Linked DNA regions of Homo sapiens: region 2 is linked to region 1. Evidence: fine-mapped expression QTL. Tissue or cell type: prefrontal cortex. Region 1 holds a variant in brackets; the other region holds the start of a gene. All regions are shown on one strand. Distances are between the middles of the regions.

What was found. PIP is the estimated chance that this variant, and not a neighbour inherited with it, causes the effect.
Region 2: it holds the start of NOD2, and the variant in region 1 is fine-mapped to the expression of NOD2 in prefrontal cortex (BrainSeq, PIP 0.95).

The regions. Positions count from the first base shown.
Region 1 is chr16:50,668,226-50,674,110 of GRCh38, reverse strand. It overlaps SNX20 (sorting nexin 20), which reads left to right. Exons shown (of 4, transcript NM_182854.4): 4 at 37-2,482. The coding sequence ends at 705. It overlaps LOC101927272 (a long non-coding RNA gene), which reads right to left and starts at 5,256. Exons shown (of 3, transcript NR_110908.1): 1 at 4,951-5,256; 2 at 3,118-3,428; 3 at 2,472-2,963. The variant G/A (reference allele first, on the strand shown) is at 2,768.
Region 2 is chr16:50,690,277-50,696,298 of GRCh38, reverse strand. NOD2 (nucleotide binding oligomerization domain containing 2) reads right to left here and starts at 2,693. Exons shown (of 12, transcript NM_001370466.1): 1 at 2,637-2,693. RefSeq lists enhancers at 1,724-1,803, 2,044-2,093 and a silencer at 2,464-2,973.

The DNA of each region.
Region 1 (5,885 bases):
GGGAGGTGGCCACAGCTCTCTCTGGTTGCGCCCTAGGTGTACCAAATCATCGTCATCCAGACTGGGAGCTTTGACAACAACAAGGCCGTCCTGGAACGGCGCTATTCCGACTTCGCGAAGCTCCAGAAAGCGCTGCTGAAGACGTTCAGGGAGGAGATCGAAGACGTGGAGTTTCCCAGGAAGCACCTGACTGGGAACTTCGCTGAGGAGATGATCTGTGAGCGTCGGCGCGCCCTGCAGGAGTACCTGGGCCTGCTCTACGCCATCCGCTGCGTGCGCCGCTCCCGGGAGTTCCTGGACTTCCTCACGCGGCCGGAGCTGCGCGAGGCTTTCGGCTGCCTGCGGGCCGGCCAGTACCCGCGCGCCCTGGAGCTGCTGCTGCGCGTGCTGCCGCTGCAGGAGAAGCTCACCGCCCACTGCCCTGCGGCCGCCGTCCCGGCCCTGTGCGCCGTGCTGCTGTGCCACCGCGACCTCGACCGCCCCGCCGAGGCCTTCGCGGCCGGAGAGAGGGCCCTGCAGCGCCTGCAGGCCCGGGAGGGCCATCGCTACTATGCGCCTCTGCTGGACGCCATGGTCCGCCTGGCCTACGCGCTGGGCAAGGACTTCGTGACTCTGCAGGAGAGGCTGGAGGAGAGCCAGCTCCGGAGGCCCACGCCCCGAGGCATCACCCTGAAGGAGCTCACTGTGCGAGAATACCTGCACTGAGCCGGCCTGGGACCCCGCAGGGACGCTGGAGATTTGGGGTCACCATGGCTCACAGTGGGCTGTTTGGGGTTCTTTTTTTTTATTTTTCCTTTTCTTTTTTGTTATTTGAGACAGTCTTGCTCTGTCACCCAGACTGAAGTGCAGTGGCTCAATTATGTCTCACTGCAGCCTCAAACTCCTGGGCACAAGCAATCCTCCCACCTCAGCCTCCCAAGTAGCTGGGATTACAGGTGCACACCACCACACCAGGCTAATTTTTAATTTTTTAGTAGAGACAGGGTCTCTCTGTTGCCCAGGCTGGTCTCTAACTTCTGACCTTAAATGATCTTCCTGCCTCAGCTTCCCAAAACACTGGGGTTACAAGTGTGAGCCACCACCCCTGGCCTGGGGTTCATTTTTAATGGGAAAAGCCACTGGGGGCTCTAACTCGCTGGGTGACTTTGGACAAGCCCCTCCTCTGGTCCTCAATTTCTCCATCTGTATTGGACAGAGGTGCTCCTGGGACCCCTTGGAAGCCTCTGCTTGTGTCCCACGTCCTCTTGATGCCAGGGCCACTTCATCTCCAAAACACAAAACCAACTGCCAAAACCGTCCAGAGCAGTGTCCACCCCACCAGTGTCTTTGTGGGAAGCTGGAGAAGAAGTTTACCTCACACATTCTAGACAAAACTTAGTCCATTTCCTTGAAGACAGTTCTCTCCAGCTGCTCCAAGGCTTTTCTCTCTGTTCCTTCCACCTTGGAATTGCTTTAAAATATTTCCATCCATTATCCTAATACTATCTTAGTATTCTAGCCCTTCCCCCTTACCATGTAGACCTGACAAAGCAAAACAAAAGCTCACCTATTGCCCTCAAGAACAGCCTCTACACACACACACACACACACACACACACACACACACACACACACGGTGGGAGTTGTATGCCATCCTTTTGAAGGGTGGGAGGACCCTGGACCAGAAAGCAATAATGGCATAAGATTCTGTGATACCAGGCATTTTTGGCAAGGGAAGTTGCCAACAATTTTTCTGGCTGGGATGGCATAGCACATTGTCTAGGGGTGGATTTTCATTCATAAGGCAGCTGTTCCCTGAATGGCTTCCCTGGGTTATGTAGAAACAGCCTGGGGAGGAGGTGATACAACATACTTAATGGGGCCTCTGGGCAGAAAACAGACTGAATCCTCAACACTGCCCCTTTTGAGGGTCTGTGATCCTGGAACTTCTCTGATGGACTGGGATGCCCTTAACTGAGGTCTGCTGTCTGGAAAGGACACCACAGGCCCAGAATGAAGGGGCATCTGGACCAATGACCTAGATTCAACACAGGGCTTGGAGCTGGTGGTACAGGCTGGTTTTGGCCCAATGTGTGTTGGAGGCTGGAAGCCCCTGAAGACCTAAACTGCCTGGATGAGCTTATTAGGGTGAATTAATGAGTCTGTAATTTGGGAACCTTAATGTGAGACACCACTTAAGGAGAGGAACTTGGCCCAGCAAGTGATCACTCTAGAAGTGGACAGCTATGCACTAGACTGCACCAGAATCTGTTCAACAGCGACACCTTGTGGTAAAAACTGTAGACGCCCCATCAGGCTGGATGGGAAACTAGAAACAGACTGTCTCATCTTTGGACAGATATCCCTCAAATCTCCCAATCTACTCCAGGGAAAAGACACTTCAAGTGAGAGATATTGGACTTCTTGAAAATCTAGGCCTATGGAAAATTAAAGTGTTAAATGGAAAAATTAAAGAGCTATGAGTCTATTTGTAATGATGAAACAGATGATATTGATTTTGTCAGTTATTTCTTCAAATCTAAAATGCTATCAACAATATGCAACAAATGTTTACTAACAAAGAAAAAATACCCAACATGGACAGTTTAATGGGATATTCCAGCACAAAAGCTGGAAAAGCAAAGAGTTAGACCCCCGATATGAGGGTTAACACCAAATAAGCCTGTTGTACAGGAGGGGACATTAAGGAAATTTGCACAAACTAAACTTGGCACTGGGTGGAGTACAGGGAACTTCCTCTGAGAATTTGAACTGCAAGCGGGCACTC[G/A]CCCATGTTTTAGGGCTGAATACACACAGCATGGTCCAAAATCCCTCAAGCAGAGAAATCATGTTAAAGTGGTCTCAGGTGGAGGTGTTCCAGGTGCCTCAAGACCTGGAGATCTTTAGGTCTTCCCTGGGGCTGAAGGATGTCAGCATCAAGCCAGGCCTATAAGAAGTGTAGGATCCTGTTGAGTTCAGAGGTGCTGAAATGTGAAAAAAAAAAGTCATCTCAAAATCACAGATAGATGATATGTGTGGGGTGTTGGGGGGGTGGGGCGGGGGGTGCACACAGAGAGAAAATACTTATATGGGAGTAAAGGAGCCTATAGAATCACATGGGGGGTTCCCCATAAGTACCTCTGAAGAGGGGTTGGCTTCCCACACAGTGCACAGGAAATGGATTTATTCAGGCTTCCCAAAAAGGGACTGGCCACATGGGGCAGCTTCAGGACCATCACTTTGCCTTTTCCCGATGACACTCAATGCTGCCCCTCCTCGTGCTTCTGGCAGCCTTGGCCTGAGCATCCACGGGAGTTTCTTCTGGCCATGGACACTGCATCTTCATCCACTACAAGTTGTCTGATGGACTGGGATGGCCTGCCACAGCCAGCTCCTCCTGGCATCTCCCATATGCTGCAGCAGTTAGAGCCCACTCGTTCCTTGGGTTCCTGGAACAAGTCCTTGAATTCCTTAGGCCCCCACCTCCAGCAAGCTTTCCGCAGGGCCCACTGCAGCCCCACCGGGGTACCCCACCTCCCTGTTTGCCTGGGCCCTCTCCCACGCCACCTGTATTAGTCCTTGTTTCTAGGGGACTTTAGAGTGGTGGCAGCTGGGACTGAACATTCTTCTCCTGACCCCTCAAAAGCTGGGTCCACAGGAGAGGTGAGGGGGTACCTGACCTCCATACCCAGGATGGAGCCTTGTTAGGAACACAGAATTTCAGGCCCCACCCTAGACCTGCTTAATCGGAGTCTGCACTTTAACAAGAGCATCCCCCACTGCCGCAGGTGACTCTTACCTGCATACCTCAAAGGTTGAGAAGCCCAGTGTTGAACTGACTTGAAGGCACCTCAATGAAAATCATCCATGGAACTGGGCCATCTGTGGTCCTGGGTTCATCCCCATCCTTCTCTTCTCTCCACCCGGGCCCTCTACCATACAGGTGCCTCATCCCAGGGGACTGCAGATGGGACTACCATGCCAGCCTCACAACCATACCTGCAAAACCACTCTGGGCATTTGGACTGGAGCTTAAAGGGGTTCATTCCAATGAAGCCCTCCCTGCTGCAGCAGCCACTCCCCCCCACTGGCTGTGATGGAGTCCTGGGGTCTCCACTTTGAGCTGGGATTAGGCATCCTCATGAGACCCTGTCCCCTGGGATGCCGGCAGTTCCCTGCCAAGCCCACAATTGAAAACAAGCTCTGCAAGCAGCTCCCTGTGCGGTAAAAGTCAGGGCTCCCCAGGCCTACTGTGTGACCAGGCACTGCCGGGCCATTGATAGCACCGTCACTCCAGCTCTGCTTGGGACATGTTCCTATCCCATTTTTCAGTTGAGGAAAATGTGATCATTTGTAACATTGTAACCTGAGGGGGTTAAGTGACTTGCCCAGGGTTACACAGCTAATAACTGGACCAGGAAATTAAGACCAGGCTTTAATTTGACCCAAGCCCTACTTTCCTTGCTGAACTCCACATTAAAGGATGTGGAGGAGAGGGGAAGGGATATGTTCCTGGTCCCCTCACCGAAATGGGTCCTTGATATGGTTTGGATGCATGGTGGTCACCTCCAAATCTCATGCTGAATGTGACTCCCAGTGTTGAAGGTGTGGCCTGGTGGGAGATGTTTGGCTCATGGGGGCAGGTCCCTCATGGATGGCTTGGTGCCCTCCCCGTGGTAATGAATGAGTTCTCACTCTGTTAGTTTACATGAGAGCTGGTTGTTTAGAAGAGCCTGACATGGCTCTTGCTCCCTCTCTTGCCATGTAAGTCACGAACTCCCCCTTCCCCTTCCACCATAAGTGGAAGCTTCCTGAAGCTTCACAAGAAGCAATGCTGGTGCCATGCTTCTGTACAACCTGCACAACTGTGAGCCAAATAACCCTCTTTTCTTTATAAGCTACCCAACCTCAGGTATTCCTTTATAGCAATGCAAAATGGACTGACACGCCTTTAAAGATCATTTCACTCACCTCTGTTTACAGATGGGGAAATCAAGGCCTGGAGAGATGACTTATCCAGGGTCACGTGGCGAGACAGGGACAGCACCAGAACCAGACCCGAGATGTCCACGTCAAAGTGACATGCTCTGAGAGGCAGCACACACAGAATAACCCTGCATCCAAATTCCAGGAAGCTCTTAGGGGTCATCCAGCTGGGCCTAGGGGTGCAGGGTCAGTGCTGAGGCCTGGGCAGGGCCGCTAGCCTCCCTGAGCTTTCTGGCTTCAGGCTGGGAGGCACAGTTCAGGGTGGACTGTGACCCCTTGGCCTAGAATGCCCTTAGCTCTGCTCTCTAGTGGCTGTCCCCATAGCTGGAACTCTGTTTTGGAGTGGCAAAACCAGTTCCACCTGCTGGTAGGGGTAGGTTGGCTCCCAACACATCCCCAGCAGGCCTCTCTTGGGCTCAAAAGCCAAGCTGTGCCCAGCCACGTCTCCAAATGCTTCCTGGCCCCCATGCAGCAACTGCATTTAGCTGCCTTCCCAGAATTTCCTGCATGCTCACACAGCCCTTCCCTCTGGGGCCCAACAATGCCACAGCCTGTTCTATCAATCACCAGCTGTTTTCCTTTGAGCAGTCTCCTTTTACTTATGCACATTTACTTGAAAAAGAAACTTCCTATTACTATCCTAAATGGAAACTCAGAATCACTTGCTATAATTAGAAAGTAGCTACAAAAATAAACACAATGAAACCGATCACTGTTATTACACCCTAACCCGCTTTTACCTGAGACAGGCCCTGAGCCTGAGGCCGCTGGTAGACTTTTGTTAAAAGAGAGAGAGACAGAGACAGAGAAATAAGCATTAGAGACCTGCAATCACCAAGCTGAGACTTCTCTTTGATTTACTCAGAAGGACTGGAAAATGTTGTCCTGCAAAAGGAGGTAAGTTTCTCACCACGTAGCGC
Region 2 (6,022 bases), 22 kb before region 1:
TGAAACCCAGGCCCAGGCCTGAGCCTGGACACCTCCTTCCTTCCTGAGACCACAGCCAGCCCGGTTTCTCTGGGGCCAAGAGCAAATGCTTTGCTTAAGTGCTGAAATCTCAGCCCACTGACCCCTTGCAGACAGGAGAGGAGGGGAAGCCCAGGGAAGCTCAACTTCCCAAGTGTCCTGAGTCTCTGCTGGGGCCAAGCCCCCCACCCTCCCCCAGCTATCCTGCATTCTCCCTCCCTAACACTGTTCTCTCCCTAAGAGATCAAATCCCCCCACCAGTGCACAATGCACTCTAATTCTCCATTGTAAAAGTAAAGCACTCTCTTGACACTCCCCTTCTTCATTTGGCTCCAATCCCATTTATCTGCTCCCTTTACAGCAGGCCCCCTTGTCTGTTGCCTGTACTGCTGTCCCCAAGTCCTCCCATCCCCTCCCATTCCCTCTAGTTCCCCATCCAGCTCCAGTGAAACTGTCACCAGTGACCTCCCATTGCTCAATCCTCAGCCCTCAGCCTGCTTGCTCTGCCAGGGGCATTGGTCATATTTGTTCCCTCCTTCCTCTTTGGGGCATTTTCTTCATTTCCTCCAGGACACCCCAACTCTCTGATTTTCACTCTTTCTGTCTTCTTGGCTGGTTCCTAACACTGGGGGCCCCAGCACTCAATGGTTAGACCCCTTCTCTTCTCCATATCACTCCATCCCTAGATGAGCCCACCTGCTCTTGTGGCTTTAAATACCAGTTATATGGTGATGATGCCCAAAGTTTTATTTTCAACTCCAACCTCCGCCCTTAACTTTTCCCAACTGCTTACTCATCATTGATGCCTAATGGGCAGCTCAAACTCCACAAGCACAAAACCAAACTCTTGATCTCTCCGCTAAGCAACTCCCATTTCAGTTCATGGCAGCTTCAAACCTCCAGAAGCTCGAGCCAAACACTCAGAATCATCTTTGACTCTACCTTTCTCTTGCACCCCAAACCCTATCGACACGGCCTTTGAAATATATCCCAAATCTGAATGTCTGGTTTTCTTTTTTTTAACCACCTCTGGGCCATGGGCAAGACACCATGGTCTCTCCCGAGAATGACAGCAATGATCCGCTCAACGGGCTCTCCTTCTGCCCTTACCCCACCCCCCCCATGATCCATTCTCCACCCCACAGCTAGATGGGCCTGCCAGACCCCAAGTCAAAGCAGGTGACTCCTCTGTTCCAAACCCGTGCTCCCATCATGCTCAGAGTGAAAACCAAAGCCTCCCAGCCCCCCAGATACTCATGTGGCTCACCCCTCAATTCCTTATGACTTTGCCCAGCTATCGTGGTCTTGGGGAAGCCTTCCCTGGTTGTGCTATATACAATGCAATACCCAGCCCCAGCACCCCATCCTGCTTCCCAGCTTTGTTTTACTCGTAGTACTTCCCGCCACCTGCTACGCCATGTATTTACTTATTTCATTGCTGTCCATTCCTTTCTAGAGTGTGCACTCCATGAGGGCAGGGGGTTTTGTCTGATTTTCCTACTGCTCTGTCTCGTGTCTCATCCAGTGCATGAATGATGACTGCTGGAAAGAATGAAAGAACTGACTTGCTCTGCATGGCTCCGGGAGACAGACATGGAACCAAGGTGTAGAATCTGTAAGCCACAGATTTTAGCTAAAGGAAACAAGAGCTGCAAGGCACTAAAAAGCCACCTCATCAGTAATAAGCTCCCCACCACTGGGCATGTGTCACAGAGGGGCTCTGCACTGGGTAGGAGGGAGGTGGGCTGGATGAGGATGCTTCCAGCCTCAGATCCCAGGGTGCAGCGAGGCAAAGGGGCCTTGAGCAGCCAACAAACTCAGGGGCCCCAGCAGCCCCATGGCTGAGTGATCGGGACAGGCAAGTACAGGTGGTGGGGATGTCACTCTGGTCTTTTTCACTAAGGGGTCAGGGGAGGGTGACAGGGCAGGTGTTTCCCCTCTGTAGAACAAGGACCCTGGAGGAGGCTAGGTCACAGCCCATGGGGAAACCAAGGCCATGGCAGGAGAGGCTCAGAAAGAGCAAACTCAGAAGCAGGGGTCCAGCCCCCAGCCCTCATGCAGCTTCAGGAGGTCCTCCCCAGGGGGATTGGGGTGGAGGGCTTTTCAGTTTGTTGGAATGAAAGCAGGACCAGATGGCTGCTCCATCAACCTGAGAAGCATAGGAGAGCAAACAGCTGGGGGATGTGGCCTCGCAGGTCCTGGTGTGGGCTGTCTGGGAAGGGATGGATTTGAACTTAGATCTCACACCCAACAAGGGAGAAGGAGGAGGCAGGAGATTCCCATAAGAGGTACAGAGAGCAGCAGCAGGATCCTCCAGGCAGACTCTCTCACTTATACCCACCCACTCACTGGCATGGTGAAGCTGGGGAAACTGAGTCCCACAGAGAGGAAGGAAATCAAAAGAGTGGCCCAGGGGCCTCCCCAACCTCGAGATGCCCCCTTTCCGTCTCACTTCCCATCTACATTCTGGGACTCCCCCAGGAGAAACCGAGGCAACCCTTGCCCAAGCCCTGCGGCCAGGACGGCTCAGAAGCCAAGTGTTCAAGTCCCGGGGGTGGGACCCTCGGCGCCCACAGTCTCCCCCCAGCCCACCCCCAGGCGCTGGGCACAGCACTCACCGCGAGCCGCCTGCGCGCCGACTCCAAGGCCCACTCCGGGCCACGACTCCCGGCTCCGGCTCCGGCTCGGGCTGCGGCTCCGGGTGCGCGGGCGCTCGGCTCCGCCCCCGCCCGGACCCCGCCCCTGCTCTGCCGGGACCGCAGCACCCGCTCCTGTCCCGTGGCCCCGCAGCCCCGCAGCCCCGCAGCCCCGCAGCGCCGGCTCCAGGGCTGGCCAGGCTTACCTGGGACAGGGCAGGACCGGGGCTTCCTGCGGGGCTGGACGGCCCTGGCTGTGTGCCCTAGCCAGTGTGCCTCTCTTTCTGGGCCACGTTTCAACCAGGAGGGAATCGGGGAGTCCTCGGAACAACCCGCTTCCCAACACATACACATACACACACACACACACCACACACCACACACACCGCTTCCCAGCACACACGCGCACACACACACACCACACACACACCGCTTCGCAACACACACACACGCCCTGCTTCCCCCCCACACGCAAACATGTTTCCCAATACACACACACAGCCCTCGCTTCCCCCCACACACAAACATGCTTCCCAATACACACACAGCCCTCGCTTCCCCCAACACACATACCTTGCTTCCCAACACTCACATACACACACACACACGCCCTGCTTCCCCCCACCACAAACATGCTTCCCGATACACATACACCCCCTACTTCCAACACACACACCCTGCTTCCCAACACTCACACACACACCACTTCCCAACACACACACACCCTGCTTTCCCAACACATACACCCCACACACACCGCTTCCCAACACACACGTGCACACACACACACACCCCACACACACACCACTTTCCAACACAAACACACACTACACTCCCTGCTTTCCCAACACACACACACCCCACACACACTGCTTCCCAACACACACGTGCACATACACACACCCCACACACACACCACTTCCCAACACACACACACCACACCCCACACACACCACTTCCCAACACACACACCGCTTCCCAACACACACAAACATGCTTCCCAATATACACACACCCCACTTCCCAACACACACACATCGCTTCCCAACACACACATCGCTTCCCAACACACGCCTCACTTCCCAACACACACACACACACACACGCACACACAGCCAAAACTAGGAAAACTTTTCCAGAGTGTGACAGGTTACATGTTAGGTAAGAGTGGACTGGTCATTTAAGGTTCTTTTTTTTCATTTTCCTTTCAGTTTTTCCGTTTATGTTGAATGGAGTTTATTTCTCAGTTTAGTACTAATAGGGTTTGAGTACCTTTCTAGCACTGCCTAGATTACTTGGCTCTGAAACTATCTAATTAGCTTTAATAGCATTGTTTTTGTTTCCATTAAATATATTTTATTTTACATTCTTCTGTTCTCCGGAGCAAATGACACCGGTTTTCCATTTAACATGTTAATGTAAATGTTCCTTTTGAAACTCATATTTGGTTGTTTTAAAAAATGTGAAGTCAATTTTTAAAAATAACGAAAATAACTGGCATCTAGAAAGTGTTTACCATGTGCTAGTCTTTACAGACAGTAACTCAGTTACTTCCACCTCTAGGGTATTGACTATTATTGCCTCTAACTTATAGATGCAGAAACTGAGGTACACATTTGAACTTTGATCTCACGCCCACCAAGGGAGAAGGAGGAGGCAGGAGATTCCCCTAAGAGGTGCAGAGAGCAGCAGTAGGATCCTCCAGGCAGACTCGCTCACTTACACCCACCCACTCACTGGCATGGTGAAGATGGGGAAACTGAGTCCCACAGAGAGGAAGGTACTCAAAAAACAGTGGCCCCCTCTGAGACCTGAAGCCCGGGCTCCTCAGGACTTCTCACTCCTGCCAGGGGCCTCCCCAGCCTCGAGATGCCCCCTTTCCTCTGGCACCAGAGATGGGGATTTGCCCCAGGCCTCTGGCACAGATGAATGCTCTAACCACTACCCCATACCGCTTTCAAGTAAATACCTGTGCAGGTGGTGCACAGTCAGCCAAGGTTGGAAAATGCTGCATTAGAAGGACTGAATCTACCCTAGAAAATTCATTCTGGGCAGCGCACAGAACCATCTACAAGGATGTTCACCACCATCTTGCCTACAGCAGTGAGAAGCTAGAAACCTCCCTAATGCCCAGTAACAGAAAATTAATTAAGAAAACTGACAGAACATCTGAACCTAGAACACTTAACCCGACCCATCTTCTCTCAGCCCCACTATCCAATCTGGGAGCAAATTTTTCAGCTTGGCCTTCAAATATTTCCAAGCTGCAGCCCATTTTTGCCATATGCACCATTACCACCTGGGTCCACATCTCCATCATCTCTCACCTGGGTGATAGCAGGAGTTCCTGGCCATTCTCCACGCCTCCATCTACAGCCCTTCTTCAATCCAGCAGCCAGAGTGAGTCTGTTGGTTTTGCTGTTGTTGTCGTTGTTGCTGTTTTAAGTCAAATTCTATCACTCCTCTGCTGAAACTCTTCTGTTGATGGCTCCCATCCCAAAGTAAAAGCCAAGGTCCTTACAATTGCTGTTTGGCCTCTGGCACCCTCTCTGCCCACCTCTTACACTCTCATCTTACTCACTCTGCTCCAGCTACACTGGCCTCCTGGCTGTTCCTCAAATATGCCAAACCTGCAGTTACACTCAGGCCTTTGCCTTTGCTGTGCCTGGAATGCTCTTTCTTTAGAAATCTACCTGGCTCCCTCCTTCCTCTCCTTTGGGTCTTTGCTTCCATATGACTTTCTCGGCAAGGCCTTCCCTAACTATTCGGTGTACAGCTGCAACACCCTCCAATCCCTTCTCTCCTGCTTTATTTTGTATTTTTCTCCATAGCGCTTATCTGCACACAACACATTATGTATTCTACTTATTTATTGTCTTTGTTGTTGGTCTCTCACCCAAGACAGCATGAGCTCCAAGGGAACAGGGAATTTTTGCTTTGTCCCTTGCCTTCTCCCAAGGCCTAGAACAGGACCTGGCATGCAATAAATCTTTGTTGAGTGAATATACTAAAAATAATGCTGTGGTTCTAATAACCAATGAAAATAAATGAATCACTGTACCCCCACGAGAACTGCAGCCTCACAGACATAATGTTGGGTGAAACAGGCTGAGTGCAAGAGCGTGCATACGGAATGGTATCCTTTCTATAAAGTTCAAAAGCAGGCAAAACTGCATTACAGGTAGGAGCCAAGATAGAGGCTACCACTGGGGAGAAAGTTGGAGGTAGTGACTAGGGGAGGAGTGAAGGGGACTTCTGGGGTGCCAGTAATCTCCTATTTTTACTCTGAATAGTGGTTGCATTGATGCAAATACATTGTGAAACTGACCAAGTTAAACACATGATATTTATATTTTCCTTTATGCTTG